Linked DNA regions of Homo sapiens. The protein of the gene in region 1 interacts with the protein of each later gene in a pairwise test. Each region holds a gene or a part of one and is shown on either strand. Other genes may lie near its edges.

What was found. Proteins that work in one complex are often made in the same cells at the same time.
Region 2: the proteins of TMEM243 (region 1) and MTIF3 interact in binary tests that used the Homo sapiens proteins (3 or more experiments, as listed by UniProt).
Region 3: the proteins of TMEM243 (region 1) and TMEM101 interact in binary tests that used the Homo sapiens proteins (3 or more experiments, as listed by UniProt).

What each region holds. Positions count from the first base shown.
Region 1 is NC_000007.14:87,209,723-87,216,748, reverse strand, and holds part of TMEM243 (transmembrane protein 243), read left to right. Parts: intron 1-7,026.
Region 2 is NC_000013.11:27,447,539-27,454,510, reverse strand, and holds the start of MTIF3 (translation initiation factor IF-3, mitochondrial), read left to right. Parts: upstream 1-3,946; 5' UTR 3,947-4,002; exon of another isoform or gene 4,003-4,659; intron 4,660-6,972. UniProt on the Homo sapiens protein: IF-3 binds to the 28S ribosomal subunit and shifts the equilibrium between 55S ribosomes and their 39S and 28S subunits in favor of the free subunits, thus enhancing the availability of 28S subunits on which protein synthesis initiation begins.
Region 3 is NC_000017.11:44,011,938-44,019,181, forward strand, and holds the start of TMEM101 (transmembrane protein 101), read right to left. Parts: upstream 3,027-7,244; 5' UTR 3,016-3,026; coding exon 2,879-3,015; intron 2,601-2,878; coding exon 2,420-2,600; intron 1,219-2,419; coding exon 1,072-1,218; intron 300-1,071; coding exon 1-299. UniProt on the Homo sapiens protein: May activate NF-kappa-B signaling pathways.

The DNA.
Region 1 (7,026 bases):
AGTCGTGAGGTGAGTGAGGGATAATGAAATCTATTATAGAACAATGACTATTAATATATAACTAAGTTGGCCTTGAGCAGCACCCTCTTGGGGAATCCCTGAAGGAACTTTTTTTGCCTTTATGGGTGCTGAGTGCACATAGTGATTTCAGTTACTGAAATTTGTTCAATCTTTAGCATGAAAATTGTTCATTCTAAGTTATTCCTATTTAGGAATAGCTTTACAGACATAGTCATGGAGAGAAAGGCAAAGTGAAACAGTTCTCTATTGTTCCATAAATATCTAAGGGATTTTTTTGTCTTTGAGGCAGTGTCTCACTTTGTAACTCATATCGGAGTGCAGTGGCCTGACCACGGTTCACTGCAGTCTCGACCTCCTGGGCTCAAGCAATTCCCCCACTTCAGCCTCCTGAGTAGCTGGGACTATAGGCGCCTTCTACCAAGCCTGGCTAACTTTTTTTTTTTTTTTTTTTTTTGAGACGGAGTCTCACTCTGTTGCCCAGGCTGGAGTGCAGTGGTGCAATCTCGGCTCACTGCAAGCTCCGCCTCCCAGGTTCATGCCATTCTCCTGCCTCAGCTTCCCAAGCAGCTGGGACTACAGGCACCCACCACCACACCTGGCTAATTTTTTTTTGTATTTTTAGTTGAGATGGGGGTTTCACCGTGTTAGCCAGGATGGTCTCGATCTCCTGACCTTGTGATCTGCCCGCCTCGGCCTCCCAAAGTGCTGGGATTACAGGCGTGAGCCACCACGCCTGGCCCTTTTTAATTTGTTGTAGAGATGGGGCTTCCTGTATTGCTCAGGCTGGTCTCAAACTAGTGGCCTCAAGCGATCCTCCCACCTCAGCCTCTCAAAGTTCTGAGATTATAAGCTTGAGCCATCGTGCCTGTCCTAGGGATTATTGACAAGACAAAAAACGAAAGGTGTTCATCTTTTGTAAGAAACATAGACCTCATTCCTTGATACCTATGGAATTTTCATGTTAGGTTGGCTATCTTATGAATCCTAGTTTGAATGCCCAGATGCTTTTTACATCTTTTTTGAACCATTCCCAAGTTTTGTGCTATAGTACTTCTCTTTCAGGTGAAAAATATGGCACAGATACCAAGATGATAAGAAATATCTGAAGTTTCCAAGCCTGTGTTATGGCTTAGCATTTTCTAAAAGAGTGCTGTCCAGTAGAAATATGATGTGAGCAGCCATATATGTAATTTACATTTCTTAGTAGCCATATGAAAAAGTATAAAGAAACAAGTGAAATATTAATAATTTTATTTAACCCCTTATTTCCAAAATATTAATACTATCATTTCAACATATAATCAATATTTAAAAAAAAATTTTAAACTAGGCATGGTGGCTCAGGCCTGTAATCCCAGCACTTTGGGAGGCTGAGGTGGGAGAATCACTTGAGCCCAGGATTTTGAAACCAGCCTGAGCAACAAAATGAGATCCTGTCACACACACACAAAAAATTAGCTGGGCATGGTGGCACCCACCTGTGGTCCCAGCTGCAGGCTCGCACCACTGAACTCCAGCCTGGGTGACAGAACAAGACTCTATCTCAAACAGAAAACAAACTGAGATACTTTTACAATTTTTTTGTATGAAGTCTTTGAAATCCAGTATGTATTTTACATTAACAGCCCATCTGAATTCACGCTAGCCATGTTTCAGATGCTCAGTTACCACGTATGGCTAGTACAGGCGATGTCCCAAATCCAAAATCCGAAATGCTCCAAAATCCAAAACTTCCTGAGCACTGACTTGATGCTACAAGTGGGAATTTCCACACAAAAGTACTTAACACAAACTTCATTTCATGCACAAAAATTTTAAAAATATAAAATTGTCTTCCAGGCTATGTGTGTAAGGTGTATATGAAACAAATTTTGTGCTTAGACTTGTGTCCCACCCCAAGATCTCACTATGTATATGTAAATATTCCAAAGCCCGAAAAAATATCTGAAATCAGAAACGCTTCTGGTCCCAAGCATTTTGGATAAGGGATACCCAACCATTTCAGACAGCTTAGTTTTAAAGCAGCTGAAATGTTATGGTGATTCCATAACCAAGTTTGTGAAACATTTTTCTTTGTTGTGGGACTTTGGAAGCTTTAATATGCCAATTTTCATTGTGACTATAGTTGGTGAGGGTGGATGAGTAGCACTTTATAAACTGTTTAGGTGGTGTGGCCTTTTTAGCCCTAGCACAACGCCTTACTCAATTCTTAACTCCAGCTCCCTAGAGCATTCACTAGATACGTTTCTGCAGAATATACTTTGGGAAACATGGTTCAATGAATCGCCTTCCTCTGCTTTTCCCTCCCATCCTGCCCCCTAGGGTAAACTAAAACCTGAAAATGTCCTCCCCTCTTCTGCCCACAACTACCTTTAAAAGTTTTCTTTAGTACAAGCTTTAGTACACAGTTTGGACAGTCTTTCCCACTGTCTTGTGTTAGAAGAGCACTAAATTATTCTCAGGGCTTGCGAGTCAGTCTTGATCTCAACTTATTAGCTGGCTGTGGTATCATCTGAAGTCAGTTTCAGTCCATCTAGACTGGTGAAACTAGGAGGAGAGGGAGAGAATGGTTTTCTCGAGAAAGCAAAGCAGCATCCCATAGCTAGGGCAAATGGGAAAAGAAGGAACACTCTCCACTTGGTGCCATGTAGTGCAAACGAGTTTCTAAATCAGCCCACTCTGTGGGTGGTCACTGATCACAAAATAAGTGACTCATCCTCTAAGAAGGGTGGTGACAGTTCTTGCTCCTTTATTCCTTCTTGGATGTGATATATAAAGTCAATGATTTGGGGAGAAGGTACATACACTGAATTCCTCAGTAGATACCATAGTGAGAGGGAGGCCCTCTGTGGAGGGGGCAAGTGTAGTGGGCTCTGAGGCTCAGATCTTTGGTTCCAAAGACAAAAGTATCTTCCTTTATCCCCATCCCCCCAATAAAAAAAAAAAGAAGAAAACAAAGACGGTGAAAAGCAAGGGCTTTTTATGATTAGTGTTAGTCAAGCAATTCAAACTTGGAGCATTTGGCCTCTGCAAATAATCATGTAAGATTAGAGTTGCTACTTCATGCCATTTTTGTTGTCGCTTATTTAAGAACAAGGATCAGTAGGGATGGTAATAAAATAATTTTTAAAAATGCAAAGAAGAGAAAAAGAATAAAGCTATGATTAAGATAGCTGGGTCTGTGCCAGCAGCCCCTTCCTCTGTCTTAGAGCTACCAATGCTATTCTCTGAGGAGTGCAGGCTTTAGTTTATTTCCTCTAGATAGAGCTTCTAGGTGATCAAGCACAGCTATTTCTCTCAAAGGAGGGTTAGTCACCCAAAGGTGAAACAGTTCTCTCCTCTCCTCTCATTCAGCCTGCCAAAACAACTTTGCCTTTTTTTGTGTGTGCTAGAAAAGTAATTAAGAAAAATAAATGCCATCACTTTTTCTTTAGTACTCTAAGTTTTCTCTCTTCCACCCCTAGATCAGTGGACTGTAATCTCTGGGTGTGGGGCCTAGGCACTGGTATTTCTGGAAGGTCCTCAGGGGATGCTGGTGCATAGGAAGGGTTGAGATGCACTGGCCTTACTCTTGCTGTGTGTAAGCCCAGTCCAGGCTAATACCTCTCCATGGACCCCTTCTTTTAGCTGCCTCTTTGCTCTTCATAAATGTCGTTCTCCTTTCTGCTGTGTCCTCTCTTCTCTAAATATCTGAATTCTGCTCAGTCTGATTCCCTACTTTAGAACCTTCCCTGTAATCCAGTCTCTTCTCACTTTCCTTCTGTGAGCCTGGCTGTCAAAGATGTGCCCTGGCACTTACTCCTTGTGCTGTGAGGGACTTGTGTAGGTCTTGCCTCCTAACTATAGAATAAGCTCTTCTTTAATGGTAGGTGCCAGTTTCCTCATTTTTGTAGCCTTTTTAGCCCTAGGGACAATGACTTACCAAGTTCTTGATTTCATGTATATTAAGTTTTAAGCAAAGTGAGAATTTAGCGTTATCAAAAAGTAACCTACATTCTTGGGACATTCTGAGCTCACAGTAGAAGGCAGGGACTGTTTAGAAACCTGGATATGCTAGATATCAAAACAGGAAATGGTGCTTCAAGCTCTCATGCAATTAAAATCATTTTTCTCTTTTTCTTTCTGCTAAGTTGTATGTAGCAGAGGCCAGTAGTAAATAAAATATTGTATTAAAAAAAACTTAAACTGAGGTCTGGTCTCTCAGAAGCTGATGGTCTACTGAGTTTTCTCTGGATGTGATTTTTGCTGGTCTTTGGTAATATCCTTTGCTTACTGAATTGAGTCACTTTTTTCTTATAGTTGGCTCATAGGCTATGTATGGGTATAGTGACCATATTTTCTGAGTTGCTGAAGGGACATATGGGTGGATAAACCTCAGTGTCCCTGTGAGAATGGTGGAATGCATTTGAAATTGGAGCTGCCATAGAAATTGGGGCCAGGGTGTGAAGCCAGCTCAGCTCTCTCAGCTCTGAGGAGCCTGATCTCTCATTGGTAAGATTCCCCCTTAGACATGGTATAAATAGTGCAAATACCATATTAGCTGCCATTTACTGACCCTCTACTGAATGTCAGATACTCTCTTGTAGGGGCTTTCTATGTATTCTCTTCTAATCCTTATTACGACTTCACATGGTAGACATTGTACAAATATGAAAACTAAGGCTTAAAAGTTGTAACTTTTAAAATACAGGTCCACATGTAGCAGTGGAGGTCATGTGTTTGGGAGAGAATCGAGTGTAAAAGTTGTAAAGGGTGGGTGTGCCCAAATTCTCATAAATGCTTTCTCTTGCACATCCCGTGCTCTCGGCACTGTTCAAAGTCTGGTGTTGCTTTGGGAAGTCTCAGAGCAGTAGTACCTATGGGTCATAATTCGCGGCGTCCTAGAGTTAGCCAGTGAGACAGAATGTCTCCTTGCTTTCCACCTGTGTGGCTGCTATACCTCCGGTTGTCTCTAGTGACAGTGCAAGGGGAAGCTCCTGTACAGTCAGAGCCATGCTGCTCTGAGGGACCCATATTAAATCCCTGGACACAGGGCCTGAGGTTTCTTTATTCAGCTGGGCTCAAAATAAACCTTCTCCCACATTTTGCATCCTCTCGTTATGCTTTTTCCTGGCCCCTTAGGCTTCTGACTGGGCCACTTACACAGCTTTCATGGTGAGAAGTTGTGATTTGGAAGAAGAGAAGCAAAGTCATTTCTGAGAATCAAACTTTTATTTATGGTATTGGGACCCTTAAGTTTGCTTGAGAAATGCAGAACTTTGGAGGCAAAATTGTAGGATGTGGCTCAAGGGTCTGAATCACTCAGTCCAGGTAAACAATGGTAGGAAGTAGCACCCTTTGGGCATTTAATACCTGCTCAATGTGTTGCCTTGCTCTTTCCCCATCCCAGGAGAAGACAATCACTGTCTTCAGTGGCCTGAGGAACTCGTGGGTAGGGAGGGTAAGGGATGAGTATAAAATGGGATTGAGCCTTTTATAAAAGGAAGAACAAAGTGCCTGGAGGTATTGTTCCTAGACCAAACTGAGGGTCAGGCTGCTATTTCTGGTGGCCCAATAATGAGATGCAGTTGAGGAGCTGAATGTTAATAGGTAAGACAATGGGGAAAATGTCCCCAGGGAATTTCAGAGAGCTTCACAGCAGCCCCCACACTACAGGCCCTGAGGCCTGTCAAGGAAAAATGGTTTTGTGGATCAGGTCCTGGACTCCAGTGCCCTGTGTCACAGCTGCTCCAGCTCCAGCTGTGGCTAAAAGGGGCCAAGATATAGCTTGAGCTGTTGCTTAAGAGGGTCCAAGCCCCAAACCTTGGTGGCTTCCACGTGCTGTTGGGTCTGTGGGTGCACAGAAGGCAAGAGTTTGGGAGCCTCCGCCTAGATTTCAGAGGATGTATGGAAATGCTTGGATGTCCAGAAGTCTGCTGCAAGGGGGAGCCGTTATGGATTGCATTGTATGCCTGGAAAAGCCACAGACACTCAGCGCCAGCCTGTGAAAGCAGCTGTGGGGGCTGTACCCTGCAGAACCACAGGGCCATGTGGAGTTGCTCAAGGCCTTAGGAGCCCACTCCTTGCATTAGTGTGGCCTAGATGTGAAACATAGAGCCAAAGGAGGTTATTTTGGAGCTTTAAGACTTAATGACTGCCCTGCTGGGTTTTAGACTTGCATGGGGCCTGTAGCCCCTTCATTTTGGCTGATTTCTCCCTTTTGGAATGGGTCTGTTTACCCAATGCCTGTAACCCCCATTGTATCTTGGAAGTAACTAACTTGTTTTTGATTTTACAGGCTCATAGGTGGAAGGGACTTGCCTTGTCTCAGATGAGACTTTGGACTTGGACTTTTGAGTTAATGCTGGAATGAGTTAAGACTTCGGGGGGACTGTTGGGAAGGCATGATTGGTTTTGAAATGTGAGAAGGACATGAGGTTTCGGAGGGCCCAGGGGCTGAATGACATGGTTTGGCTGTGTCCTTACCCAAATCTCATGTCAAATTGTAATCTCCACATGTTGAGGGGCAGGGAGGGACGTGATCAGGTCATGGGGGCAGTTTCTAATGGTTTAGCACCATCCCCCAGTGCTGTCTCATGAACGAGTTCTCATGACATCAGATGGTTTAAATGCATGTGGCAGTTCCCCGCTCCCACACGCTTCCCCGCTCCCGCCCTCCCCATCTGTCCCCCCTTCCCCTCCTCTGTCTCTCTGTCACCTCCTCCCCCTCCTCTCTCTCTGTCCCCCCTCCCTCTCCTCTGTCTCTCTCTCTGTCCCCCCTCCCCCTCCTCTGTCTCTCTGTCCCCCTCCTGTTTCTCTCTCACTGTCCTCTCTCTCTGTCTCTCACTCTCTCACTGTCTCTCACGCTCTCACTGTCTCTTGCTCTCTCTCTCTCTCGCTCTCACTGTCTCTCTCTCACTGTCTCTCGCTCTCTCACTGTCTCTCGCTCTGTCTCGCTCTCACTGTCTCGCTCTGTCTCGCTCTCACTGTCTCGCTCTGTGTCTCGCTCTCACTGTGTCTCGCTCT
Region 2 (6,972 bases), on another chromosome or scaffold:
TTTTTAAAACTTTATTACAATATGTCATTCATTTTAGACATTTTGCTGATTCACAACCACCACGTTTTAATAACTGAGGCCATCATATTCTGACAAGAGAAATGATTAATCTGGAGTCTAATGTTATGGGAAATCTCACTCATGGTAAGGAAATTTATTTTGAATCTAGCAAATAGTTTGAGAGCACACAAAGGGTTATAACACAGATGTGGTCACCAGATGTTCTCCAGCTCTACTGCAGAACCAGACTAAGTAGCAACATGATGGATTTAGGTTATGTAAAGGAAAAGACTCCCGTCTTATAAAACATTGAAATGAGAAGCTAAATCTCCTGGCCTCGAGTTTTGTTTTGGCTTGTTTTAAATATAGAGATGTTTTACATGTTTGGAATGGATTAATTATAGTCCTGCCTGAGGAAAATGGTAGAGATTTCATAAGAAGGCTTTCGGCTTTAATAGTTTCTAACAGACAATAATAGACACACAATATTGGGCTGACAGTATCTTCAGGAAGCTTTGAACGAGTTACCTAACACTCAGCCAAAGCCTCTTGCATGCCTTGTTTCTATGACTCTTGACAAGTCTGTAAACATCAACTAAGGAGAGCATGGACCCTTTTGGCTATTAAACTGGCCTTGTAATGACAGAGTTGCTGCTGTTTAAGATAACTGCTCTCAGCTACATTTAGTTGGCACTACATAGGATCTCACACATAATAGACTTAAATTCCCCCAATTTTAGCAAAACTGCCCAGGTAAGAGTTTATAATCTGGAGAGGGAGGAGTATCTAATCTATGAACAATTATTTGTTAAAGAATATGCTGAATATCTGAACCCACATGGGCTTTAAAGTTTGAAGATGCTTCGTATCTTCAAAATAAACCCAAGATTTTGACTGGGCATGGTGGCTCATGCCTGTAATCCCAGCACTTTTTGGGGCCGAGGCAGGTGGATTACCTGAGGTCAGGAGTTCGAGACCAGCCTGGCCAACATGGTGAAATCCCGTCTGTACTAAAAATATAAAAACTAGCCAGGCGTGGTAGTGGGTGCCTATAATCCCAGCTACTTGGGAGGCTGAGGCAGGAGAACTGCTTGAATCCAGGAGGCGGAGGTTGCAGAGCCGACACGGTGCCACTGCACTCCAGCCTCGGCAGCAGAGTGAGACTCCGTCTCAAAAAACAAACAAACAAAACAAAAAAACAACCACCACCAGGATTTTTATTAGTATTAGATTTTTAAATGAATTGTTAGTCATTGTGGCATTATAAAGACGCAGCCCAGTGTTCATAACTTTTTAAAGAAATCACCCACAGACTGATTCTTTTGTGGATCAGATATGTTGTACCTCAATGACCTTGGGCTAAGCAAGTAAATCTCACATACAATCCTGTTTTGGAAGGTCCCCTCGGCGTTGGGGAAAAGTGGGAGGACTTGGAAAGCTAACAGGCAAAGAGAGGGACGGGATATTTCCATTATTCCTTCATCAGAGCAAATCACCAATATATTCATTGAAAGAGAAAGTTCATGGGCATGCTATGGAAATTAACGTAGAAATTACTATGTAATAGAAAATATAGGCATTTTTAGAGTCACCATGATTTGAGTCTTATTGAGTTACATTTTTTGAGGGGGTTAAATTATATGTAGAAACGATAACAATTGGGAAAGCTCTACACATGTCTCAGAGTCCTCTTCTATGTACATAACGGAGTAGTTTATTAAAGATCTGTGGCATAGTAATAGCATTTCCCCAAACCTCTTCATCTTTATTCAAGGATCTTCAAAGTCTGCCCCCACCAAGCACAGCTCAAGGCTCTCAATGACTCTTTAAAAGCTTCCAAGTGGCCGGGCGTGGTGGCTCACACCCGTAATCCTACCACTTTGGGAGGCCGAGTGGGGTGGATCACCTGAGGTCAGGAGTTCGAGATCAGACTGGCCAATATGGTGAAACCCCGTCTCTACTAAAAATACAAAAATTAGCCCGACCCAGTGGCACGCGCCTATAATCCCAGCTACTCGGGAGGCTGAGGCAGGAGAATCGCTTGAACCCGCGAGGTGGAGGTTGCAGTGAGCCGAGATCGCGCCACTGCACTCCAGCCTGGGCGACACAGAGAGACTCCATCTCCAAAAACAAAACAAAACAAAACAAAACAAAAAAACAAAAAACCCCACAAAAGCTGCCAAGCTCCATTTCGGCTGGAGGTCAAAGAAGAGTTCAAGGGAAAAGATGAAAAAAATGGCTTCTCTCCATCTGTGGGCATGTCTGTAATTGCCACCCCATCTCTGCATGTCTCCTCCCAGGAACACTAAAGCACCATCTTCTAGGCGTGGAGACATCTGACAATGGAAGTCTAGAAAGCTTCCTAAACCACCTGCTCTGGACACAGCTGCCTTCAAAGACGGACTGCAAATGGATGCTGGCCGGTAGCTTCAGTTACCAGTGATTACTTGGTGTGAATCTACCTGTGCTATTACCTTAGCAAATTTTAAGTCTTTAGTTTGGGCATTAAATGTTTCAGTTACTTGTACATACTTCACATCCTTTTAATGTTTTCATGGACTCGTACTGTTTACTGTTTCTCTCACTACTTCAGTCTAGCAATGCAAGGAACATTTAAAGTTTGCCTGGGTTTGGGGTTTTTTGGCTTTTTTATTCTTGATTCTGCTACTAGTTGTGCGACCTTGGGCAAATTTGTTTCAGTTCCCTCATCTGTAAAATGGGTAATAATAATAATTGGCTCATAAGGTTGTCCTGAAGATTGAATAACTTGAGATATGTTCAGTGCGTAGAACAGTGTCTGGCACATAGGCAAAAGCAATCACAAATGTGGGCAATTATAATTGCTGAGCACCTAACTTTTCCCAGGTATTGTGCTACTCAGTCTGTCCCCGAATCTACGTCACACAAAATATCTTGGCATTGAGAAATAATTTTGATAGAATAAAATGAATCCTTAATTCTTCTTGATTAACTTGGAAATGGCCAAGATGCACACCTGGACTTTCGGTCTCACACAAGAGTTGTTTCATTACCTCCCTATTTTAACAGTGAGCGTCGAGCTACCAGCAGCTAAAAAGGAAATGGAGATTTCGTCTTTGCTCCCAAAGAACTATTTAAAGCTTTAGTAGTTGTGTCATCTGTAATAAAAGACGTAATGCTGACTCAAGGAGTTAATGAGAAATAAGACAACGCCTTCCAGTGGACAAGTAGCCAATAAATGTTAGTTTTTCTTCGTACCAGGAATCCAAACATTCCAGGTATGAAGCCAGATTAGGTGGCTTCACGACTGTGGACTCGCAGTCTGCCCTTGAGGAATTTCTTATTGAAGAAGAAAAAGAGGGGGGACACGGGGCCCAGACCCCCAGCACCCGGCTTTCGAGCAGGCTCCACGGGTCCGGGTCCGGGTCCGTTTTCCCTTTCGCCAGCTGGGGCCCCGTTCGAACCTCTCCCAACTACAACGCGGAGGCTCCGACGCCCCGGCCCCAGCTTTGTTTTGCCTCCGGGAGCCGCGCGCCACCGGGGACCCGCGGGGAGCCGTTCTCACTCCGAAGCTGTCTGCTCACCTGCAAATCGGAGACAGCGCCCTTTCACTTACGATCCTTATAAAAGACGCTTATAAAACATTTTATTCAGTGTTACATTAAAAAGACGTTTATGAAAGCAATTTATAAAGCCCTAGTGGGAGACCGAGATTGGTGTTAATGTAACTGGAGTAAGGGCTGCTCCGATTGCTGCAGAAATTCGACATTAGCCTTCACCGCACCTGCGGAGCAGCGGGAGCCAGGTGAGCAGCAATTTCCCCTCAGGGACTTCCTCCGCGTTCTCCGCATTTTCTGTCGGCGGAACTGAATCCCAACAGTAGAAAAACGTGGCTCCGCCCATCACCTTTCCTTTAAAGGACGCGGGGTGAAGCCCCGCCCACTACGGAGAGCGAAGGGGACTCGCCGCAGATCCGCTGTACTTGCGTCCGCTACAGTATGTCAATCGCTTGCCCCAGCACAGGTAATGCTAAATATGAGGCGTGCGGAGCGGTGCGCGGACCGGCATCGGGAGGGCGTGGCCTTAGGGGGCGCCCCTGTGGAGGAGGCACCCGGAAGGTCAGGGCTACCCCGTCCCGCCGGTACCGAGGGCGGAGAGGCTCCGCAGGTCCTGCTGCGGAGTCGGAGGGTTCTGCCGGGCTGTAAAGCCATTTTCAGCGAGGCCGCTGCACGAACTTCCGAGGGATGTTAGACCTAGAGTTGCCGCCAGCCCCACTGAGCTTTTCTAGTTCCGTCCCGACATGCGCGCCCTCGTTTGTGCGCACGCACGCACGCAGTACGTCGCTACGTCCCGTCTCTAGCCCTGGCGCTCCGCCGGTCCCGTTCTGCAGGTGGGCGTCGCCGCCGACTTACCAACAACCGGGTCGGGGGCTCCCGGAAGTGCTCTTGCGGCTTACTGCCTGGCACAGGTGGGGCAGAGCGAGCCAGGCGAAGGGCGCCTGCGCAGGACATGCTGGACAAATGCGTTGTTCTTGCTGCCTGCTGTTGCGGGAGGAGGCCTTATGGGGGAAGGTCGCGAAGTGACTGGGATTTTTTTTCTCATTTGTCATTTAGTGGGCTCCGTGGCTTAAGACTTGAACCAAGTAAACGAAGTTCTCTTACTGAGAAGTCTCAGTTTCAAGTACGTGTTGTGAAAGGCCTAAGTCTTAGAAAAGTAGAGGATGGAGAGAAGAATCTGAAAATCGACTACTATTCATTCTGTCAGGCACAACACAGTAACGAATAAGTCCATTTTGTTCCTGCTTCGTAGAGTTTACGGTCTAGTGATGGAGAACAGCAGTGCTAAGATCATCACAAAACTGTAATTGTAATGAATGTTTTAAAGGAAAGGTCAACTGGACTGTAGAAGCATTCAGTGTTAAGCTCAGTAAATTGGGGGAGGGATGGGAGAACTGGCTTAGTTTGGAAGGTAATCAGAAGAATGCGCTAAGGATCTGGCGTTTCCTAAACCAAGGACGAGAGTACTGTATTTCAAAAACCGAATGGCCAGTGTGGCCTAGGCATAAAGAAGAAACTGGAGAGGTGGGAAGGGCCTTTTGGCCTGGCGAAGGTGTAGATCTTTAATCTCGGGGCAGTTTTATTTAAGGTGAGGAAGGTCCTGGGTGTAGTGACCGCAGTGCAGTGGGAACTGGTTGCCAGGGCTCAAGCCGAGTTAGGAGACTGGCAGGAATCCAAACGAGGTGGTCGATGTTTTAAACTGACGGTGGTGACAGTGGATACGGAGAGGACTGGATGGATTCGAGTGGGGTTTAGGAAATGAAGTCGATGAGGCTTGGTGTTGGGTTGACTGGGAAAGTGGAGGCGTCAAAGGTGTCTTGGAGGTGACTGGAGGTTGTGGATGGGTAGTGATCCCATCACTAGAGTTCTGGAAGAAGACTAACATAGGATTAACATAGGAGAATAAGTTAAAAAAAAATTTTTTTTGAGAGTCTCACCCTGTTGCCTAGGCTGGATGCTTAGGCTGGAGTGCGGTGCACGATCTCAGCTCATTGCAACCTCTGCTTCCCGGGTTCAAGTGATTCTCCTGCCTCAGCCTCCCAAGTAGCTGGGAATACAGGCTCACGCCACCAGGCCCGGCTAGTTTTTTTGTATTTTTAGTAGAGATGGGGTTTCACCATGTCGGCCAGGCTGGTCTTGAACTTCTGACCTCAAGTGATCTGCCTTCCTCAGCCTCCCCAAAGTGCTGGGATTACAGGCGTGAGCCACCGTGCCCGGCCGTAAGTCCAGTTTTTAATACAGAGTCTTTAGCTCTGGGTTTAAAAGCTTTTTAAAACATATGGTTATTATTTCAATTTAATAGCTAAAGAAATAAGGTTAAATAGTTGGCCAAAGATATAATGTTGGCTTTTTCCAGTGTTCTAAATGGGAGTTCTAGCACGTAAACAGCTCAGCCTCATTATGGAGAGTACACTTTGTGCTCCCTATGGAAGAGCAAAACCAGAGCCAAGGGAGGGGAGCATGAAGGCCCAGTAACGGTAGCGCAGGCCCTCTGGGATTAAGGCTGCACTGCTCAGGCCAGAATGGGGCAACTGGGACAGTTTGCAGGCAGAAGCAAGGACTTTATGAAACTTCTTTGGAAGGTGTAAAAGAGTTCTTAGAGTCATGAGAATTGGCAAAATTAATTTCACAAATATTTAGTCCGCTAGAATCTATGCAACTTTGATCCAATCTCCCAGGAAAGAACAGATAACAGTATGAGCTTGTGAATATCAGCTGTATGAGAAAAGCAGTGAGTGAACAAATAATAGAAGTTATTTTCGTCTCTTCAGTCCACATGATTTCAAATGCATGCAAGCAATTTTTTATAGGACGAGAATGCCCACCCACCCACCCCTCATATCTACTAAACCACATATTTAAATCATGTTCCAGGAAGTTTCCCTGCAAATATTTTATCAGTACTTCCGGTAGAATGCAAAATAATGAATTATACAGGGAATACAGCTGTCCTTTGGAGCAGTAATAATTGTCTTTTTTTTGGTACAAGAATGTTCACAGCAGCTATTCATAAGAGCCAAAAATAAATAAATAAATAAAGGGAACAGCCTAGGTGTTCATTAACGAAAACTAGATTTAAAAACTGCGATATATTCATATACTTGGAGGACACTTCTTAGAAATAAAAAGGAACAAGGTAATGATCCGTACAACGTGAATGAATCTCGAAACATGCTGAGATGTCTTACAACAAAGAGTAGATATTGTTTGGTTCCATTTATATGAAGTCTTAGGACAGACTGATGGGAAAAAATCAGAACAATAGTTGCCTCTTGGGGATGGAGATTGACTTGGAAATGGCAAGAGGGAACTTCCTGGGATAATGGTGATGTTCTGTCGATAGGAGTTTTGGTTACAAAGGTATATGCACTTGTCAAAACTCAGATAAAGTCTGAGTAATCATCGAATTAAAAATGGATATCATACTATAAAGTTA
Region 3 (7,244 bases), on another chromosome or scaffold:
GTGGCCAGGATGACAGCAGTTCCGAAGATGCCCACACTCTCTCCAAGGAGCTTCATCTGGTTCCAGAACTCAACACGCCGCGTGTTGTGCCAGTAAGCAACATTGCCATCAATGAGCAGCATGACAGGGGGCAGCAGTACAGCCAGGATCTGGGCAGCGAGGGTCACGTAGTAGCCTGACAGAAAGGCCAGGGCCAGGATGCCATACAGCACGAAGAACAGCTGGATCATCAGCTCCCCTCCTGGGAGATGGTTCAGATACGCCAGCCGGTCCTCCTTGCTGTGCTGCAGTGAGTAGGCCTGGAGACATAACATCCTCTAAGACTCTCCAACAGGCTCAGAAGCCTGTCTGGGGTAAACCACCCCTGAGATGGCACCTGCAAATGAGTCCCTGCAGATGGGCTTCTGACTCCCCTCTTGGACTGGGGAACCTCTGAAAGTAGGGCCTTTGTCTCCCCCTCGGACTATGGAGCCCCAGGAGATTAGGGCCCATGTCTCCCCTCACCCTAGGGGCTATGAAGGAAGTGTATTTCCACAGTCAGACTAGAGCTCCCACCTCTGAATATGGGAGCCCACACAGAGAGCTGTACAGAGATATACTCGGTAATTAAGATAAGACCTAATGGCCTGGCGCCTGTCCATGTCTCCAGTCACCCTGGCCTCCCCTAGCACCAGGGAGAACCATAAGTGGCTACCCTAGAGCTCTCATCAGCTCTAGGGGGCAGAGTCCCAGCTGGGGCCTGACCCCCACCAAACCTCTCCTTTATCCCCTTCTAGTCCTTTGGGGGCTGGAGCCATGAGAGAATCACCCCATCTTGTTCTCCTGGCTCTCAGGGTTGAAATTTAATGGCCAGTCTACCTCGTGGCAACACTGTTGGAGGAAGGGCCTCTCAACAGGCATTTGGAGGGCCCCTGAGGCCTAGAAGCTGGCCAGGGCAATTCCCAGGGAACTGGGCCATCAGGAACTGCACTCAGGGCCTCGTTCTGTGTCTACCTTCCTGGGGTTCTGCCATGCCTAGACTCACAGTTCACTCCCAGCCAGGCACCTCCAACCAACAGTCCCCCAACATACCACACAGATGAGGTAGATACCCAGGAACACCTGGCCGGTGGACTGCAGGGAGCGGCTGCGAGGTTTCCGGCGGTACAGCTCCCCAGCACCGCTGGCCAACACAAGAAAGCCGCCGATGATGGCAACTGTGCGCGAGTACATACGGACCTAGGCCGGGGTAAGGGGACCCCAGTCAAGAACTGCAGCCGCCACATCTCTCCTGGCTTCCCAGAGTGTAGAACCACCCCTCTCTACACATCCCATTCCATCTGATGAACCCTCTTACATTTCCAAGCTTGGTGGGCAGGTGCAACAGAGACAGATCATTCTTTTTATATATATATAGAAGTAGAAACTGAGGCCCAGAGGGTTAAGAAAACTGTCAGGTCTGGCCAGGCGCAGTGGCTCACGCCTGTAATCCCAGCACTTTGGGAGGCCGAGGCAGGTGGATCACCCTGAGGTCAGGAGTTTGAGACTAGCCTGGCCAACATGAGGAAACCCTGTCTACTGAAAATACAAAAATTAGTCGGGCGTGGGGAAGGGCGCCTGTAATCCCAACTACTTGGGAGACTGAGGCAGGAGAATCGTTTGAACCTGGAAGGCGGAGGTTGCAGTGAGTTGAGACAGCGTCACTGCACTCCAGCCTGGGCGACGGAGAGAGACTCTGTTTCAAAAAACAACAACAAAAAAGAAAACTGGCAGGTCCTACCTGCCAGTAAGTGGCAGAACCCAGACACAATGTGTTTCTCCCTTCCCCACTCTCAGATCTGTAGACTCTAATCTTGGTGTTCTTTATTCTACATGGCATGGGATCTATGCCACAAAAACATTGATCTTGCTGCCCTGTAGCTGTTCACACATCTTCCTCCCCTAAGGGTCTGACAGTCTCTTCCTCAAGGACAGTGCCTTTGTCCAACCTTATCTCCAGCCTGCAGGGCCTGGCACAGGTTCTGGCTTAAATGCTATACTAACAGTAATTACATTTTCATAAAATTTATTTTATGAAAACTAGGTACTCTCCAAGGTCCTTTGTACCCCATGAGTCTGAGATTACTAAACTAACAGTTTAAAAGATTCTGGGAACCAGGTGACCGGGGTTCTGGTCCCACCAGTATCCTGTATTGTGGCTTTGGGAAAGTCTGTTTCCCATCTCTAGACCTCAGTTTCCACACTTTGAAGAGGAAGTTTGTGTGGTCTCTAAGATCCATTTCTGCGCTCTGTAATCTCCATAAGCCAAGGGGTTCGAACCTCCCAGGCTTCACACTGTGCAGCTGGCCAGCACCATTCATCGCCCACCAACAGCCCTGGGCATTGGCCTCTGATTCCCCGTCACCCAGAGGGAAGACCCTTTTGGGGCCGAGGCGCTCACCTTCAGCCAGTCCCCGTAGTGGACGTAGCCCCCGATGTAGGCGGCGTAGGTGCTAATGGCCAATTGGAGTGCGGCCCCCAGCGCGAACCAGCGCCGCTTCACGCCAAAGGACATGAAACTAGCGCACAGCACGGCTGCCCCCATGTCGAAATACAGGTAAGGCACTGGGATGTCGGGCTTCCTGCGAGCCGGGAGTGGGGAAGCAACGAGGACAGAATGAAGCGGTGGGGGAAGAAGCTTGAGACCCCTTGAGTTCCCACAGGCTCCACTGCTCCCCCAAACCAGACTCCCCTCCCATGGGCAGGACCGCCCTACCAGATTTGGTCCGACACCCAGACCAGAACCCCTCCCAGGGAGGTCCCAATTCCTCCCAGTTCAAGGGTCCCGACTTCTAGCCCCCAATTTCTTGCCCACATCACCGCCCCCTGCCGCGTTTAGCGGCTGCGTAGGCCTGCTCACCGGCGTGCCTCAGCCCTCTCAGCGTACAGCATGAGCTGGCTGAAGCAGCCCCAAAAGGGGCAGCGTGTGAGCAGCACCGAACCCAACTGCATGATCAGCTGCAACATCCACCGTCTCGAACCTATCTTCGACGCCATCTTGGGAAAGGGCAGTCCGCTGCGGCCTCACCCCAGTCAGAGAAGCAGGCGCGGGGATGGGACACGCAGCTTCCGGGTCAAGCGCTTTTTCTTTTTCCTCCCGGAAACAACGGTGTCATTCTCTAGTTCCGGATCTAAGGTGACCCAGTTGCGAAGTCCAGCCTTCTCGTCTGCTCATGGAGCCTTCAGGGCCATATTTGTCCCTGCGAATTTGAAAACTAGACTAGAGGAAGGAACAGTGGGTTCAGGATAGCAGAAGTCTTGGACCGTAGTATGATGTATTGAAGCAAACTGGTCTTTGAATGCAGCCCGATCAGGGCCCTAATCCTGATTCCAACCCTGTGTGATTCTGGGCACATCACCTAAACTTTATGAGACTCATCATGAAATGGGGATAATTACACCTACCTCAGAGTTGTGAACTTTTTTTTTCTTTTTTTTTTGTTTTGTTTTGTTTTTGAGACGGAGTCTCACTCTGTCGCCTAGGCTGGAGTGCAATGGCACGATCTTGGCTCACTGTAACCTCCGCAACCTGGGTTCAAGCGATTCTCCTGCCTCAGCCTCCTGAGTAGCTGAGACTACAGGCTCTCGCCACCACGCCCGGCTAATTTTTTGTATTTTTAGTAGAGACGGAGTTTCACCGTCTTAGCCAGGATGGTCTCGATCTCCTGACTTCGTGATCCGCCCGCCTCGGCCTCCCAAAGTGCTGGGATTACAGGCATGAGCCACCGCGCCAGGCCAGAGTTGTGAACTTTAAATGTGACAAGGTCGGTCCTAGTACATAGTAGTGGTTCAATAAATGATACACATAACGCACCAGAGGAAACCCCCGTTTCTGTTAAGATCAAAGTAAGGGGTCCTCCTGGCTCAAAGTCACCTCTTTGGGTTTGCCTTTTGCCTGTGCCCTGAGAGAAAAAGGAGATCTGAACATCTGGGACATCTCAAGTCAGTCCATTTCTCCAGCTGCCATGCTCCCGCTGTAACCCAAATTGTCATACTTTGTCAGTTTAATTGCAGCAGACATCCAGGTGGTCTCTGCATTCCCCTCCAGTGTGTTCTCAGCCCCTTCTCCCACGCCCCACCCGTTTATATGTTCTCATAACATCAGCTACCTTCCTTTGAATCACTTGGCACGGTGGCAATTAGATAGATAGATAGATATAGATACACACGCACACACACACACACACACATATATATATATCTGCTTTACATATATATGCTTTTTTTTTATTTTTGAGACAGGGTCTCACTGTGTCACCCAGGCTGGAGTGCAGTGGTGCGATCTTGGCTCACTACAGCCTACACCTCCCAGGTTCAAGCGATTCTCCTGCCTCAGCTTCCCAAGTAGCTGGGATTACTGGCGCTTGCCACCACACCCGGCTAATTTTTATTTTTAGTGGAGACAGGGTTTCACCATGTTGGCCAGGCTGCTCTCGAACTCCTAACCTCAAGCGATCCAACCGCCTTGGCCTCCCAAAGCGCTAGGATTACAGGCGTGAGACACCGCACCCAGCCAATATATTTGTGATTGTTTTATTGACAATCTTCCCCTACTAGATCGCAAGCTCCCTAAGCACAAACACGGTGCCTGGGTTTCTGTTTACTGTTTACAGATGCTCCTTGACTTGTGATGGAGTTATATCCTGATAAACCCATCATAGGTTGAAAATACTGTAAGTTGAAAATGTGTGGCTGACTGGAAGCTGTGGCTTGCTGACACTGCCCAGCATTGTAAGAGAAATACAGTTTCCACTGAATGCAGATCTGCTTTCGCACCAATGTAAAGTTGAAAACTCCAATGCTGGGAACCATCTGTAGTATACAGGATGCCCTCAGGACCTAGTATACAGGATGCCCTCAGGAAATATGTGCTGTACAGATAAATGAAAAGGTGTTGGGCTGGGCGCGGTGGCTAACGCCTGTGATCCCAGCACTTTAGGAGGCCGAGTCGGGTGGATCACGAGGTCAGGAGTTCAAGACCAGCCTGGCCAAGATGGTGAAACCCCGTCTCTACTAAAAATACAAAAATTAGCCAGACGTGATGGCTGTAATCCCAGCTACTCCGGGCGCCTGTAGTCCCAGCTACTTGGGAGGCTGAGGCAGGAGAATCGCTTGAACCTGGGCGGCGGACCTTGCAGTGAGCCGAGATCACGCCACTGCACTCCAGCCTGGGCGACAGATTGAGAGACTCTGTCTCAAAAAAAAAAAAAAAATTCCCACCAGGCCGGGTGTGGTGGCTCACGCCTATTATCCCAGCAGTTTGGGAGGCCAAGTGGGGGGTTGGATCACCTGAGGTTAGGGGTTCGAGACCAGCGTGGCCAACATGGTGAAAACCCATCTCTACTAAAGATACAAAAAATTAGGCTGGGCACGGTGGCTCATGCCTGTAATCCCAGCACTTTGGGAGGCCAAGGATCACGAGGTCAGGAGATCGAGACCATCCTGACTAACACAGTGAAACCCCGTCTCTACTAAAAATACAAAAAAAATTAGCCAGGAGTGGTGGCAGGCGCCTGCAGTCCCAGCTACTCGGGAGGCTGAGGCAGGTGAATAGCGTGAACACAGGAGGCAGAGCTTACAGTGAGCCGAGATCGCGCCACTGCACTCCAGCCTGGGTGACAAGGTGAGACAACATCTCAAAAAAAAAAAAAAAAAAAAAAAGCCAGGCATGGTGGGAGGCACCTGTAATTCCAGCTACTTGGGAGGCTGAGGCAGGAGAATTGCTTGAATCTGGGAGACGGAGGTTGGAGTGAGCCAAGTTCGCGCCATTGCACTCCAGCCTGGGCGACAAGAGCGAAACTCTTGTCTCAAAAAAAAAAAAAAATTCCCAACCAGCCAGTGAAAGGTGGGCAATAAAACCCCTTTTCACATTTCATTTTAAACCGGCCACTAGGGTCGGGCATGGTGGCTCACACCTGTAATCCCAGAACTTTGGAAGGCAGAGGCACGGGTGGATCACTTGAGGCCAGAAGTTCGAGACCAGCCTGGCCAACATGGCAAAACCCCATCTCTACTAAAAATTAGCTGGGCATGGTGGCGGGAGCCTGTGATCCCAACTATTCAGGAGGCTGAGGCAGAAGGATCGCTTGAACCTGGGAGGAGGTAGTTGCAGTGAGTCGAGATCGCACCACTGCACTCCAGGCTGGATGACAGAGCAAGACTCTATCTCATAAATAAACAAACACAGTCACTAGGATAAGGTCTGGGTAAATCAGAAAGACCATGAGAAGCCAGGCATGGTGGCCCACATCTGTAATCCAGCTACTCAGGAGGTTGAGGCAAGAGGATTCCTCGAGGAGTTTGAGGCTGCATTGAGCTATGATTGCACTACTGCACTCCACCCTGGGTGACAAAGCAAGACCCCCATCTCTAAAAAGTAAAAAAACACGAGAGAGGAACATATAGATGCAAAGAACTAGGGAATGAGATTGTATACGTGTATGTTGGAGGGTGGGGAGGTCTCTAGGCAAGGAGAATGAGAAAAAGTCTGGGTTAAAGGTAATTTTGTCTATCTCTACCCACCAGTGACAACCACACAAAACAAATTTCCTTTACCACAATATAGGCACATAGTACAGAATCAACTTTCCAGTTGGTTTTATTTTTCCAGTCTCCTCACCTCTCCGTTTCAAATGGCTGAGGTGTACAGCCCTAAAGTGTTGACGAGGACCAGAACCAGGATTGTGTACAACATGTCCATAAAATAGTCCTAGGAGTCTGCCTGGGTTGTCCCTATAGGCACAATGCCCCACCCTCCCATCATAACCTTAGCAAGCAGTTTCCAATCAAGTCTCCAGCAGCAGTGGCCAGGGACTTGTGTCAGGGGGAGGGGAAGATTGGATTGAGGAAGCTTGCCTTGGTACCCACTGCGCCCCTTCTCAGGGCTGAAGTCCCTCTCTACCTTTTCCTGCTCTTTCCTCTTTCCCAGAGGGATACTGAGAAGGGAAGGACCTGGGGCCAAATCCTCATTTCTAGGGTTGGGACAGATGCTGGCATGCTATCAGGCCAGAAGAGGGGGATGGGTGGGTGGCCTGGCCCCTGAGAAATGAACACAGCCATTTGTCCCTGTGGTCCCCCCACTCCCAGTTCCTCCTACCCCTGCCTAGTGTTCTGTGCGAGAGACGAGTGAGGGGAGAAGAAAAGGCACACATACAATACCTTTAAGGGTAAACAAGCTTTATCCCACATAAATGGCAATGCAGATATAATAAGCAAATGATATAGTA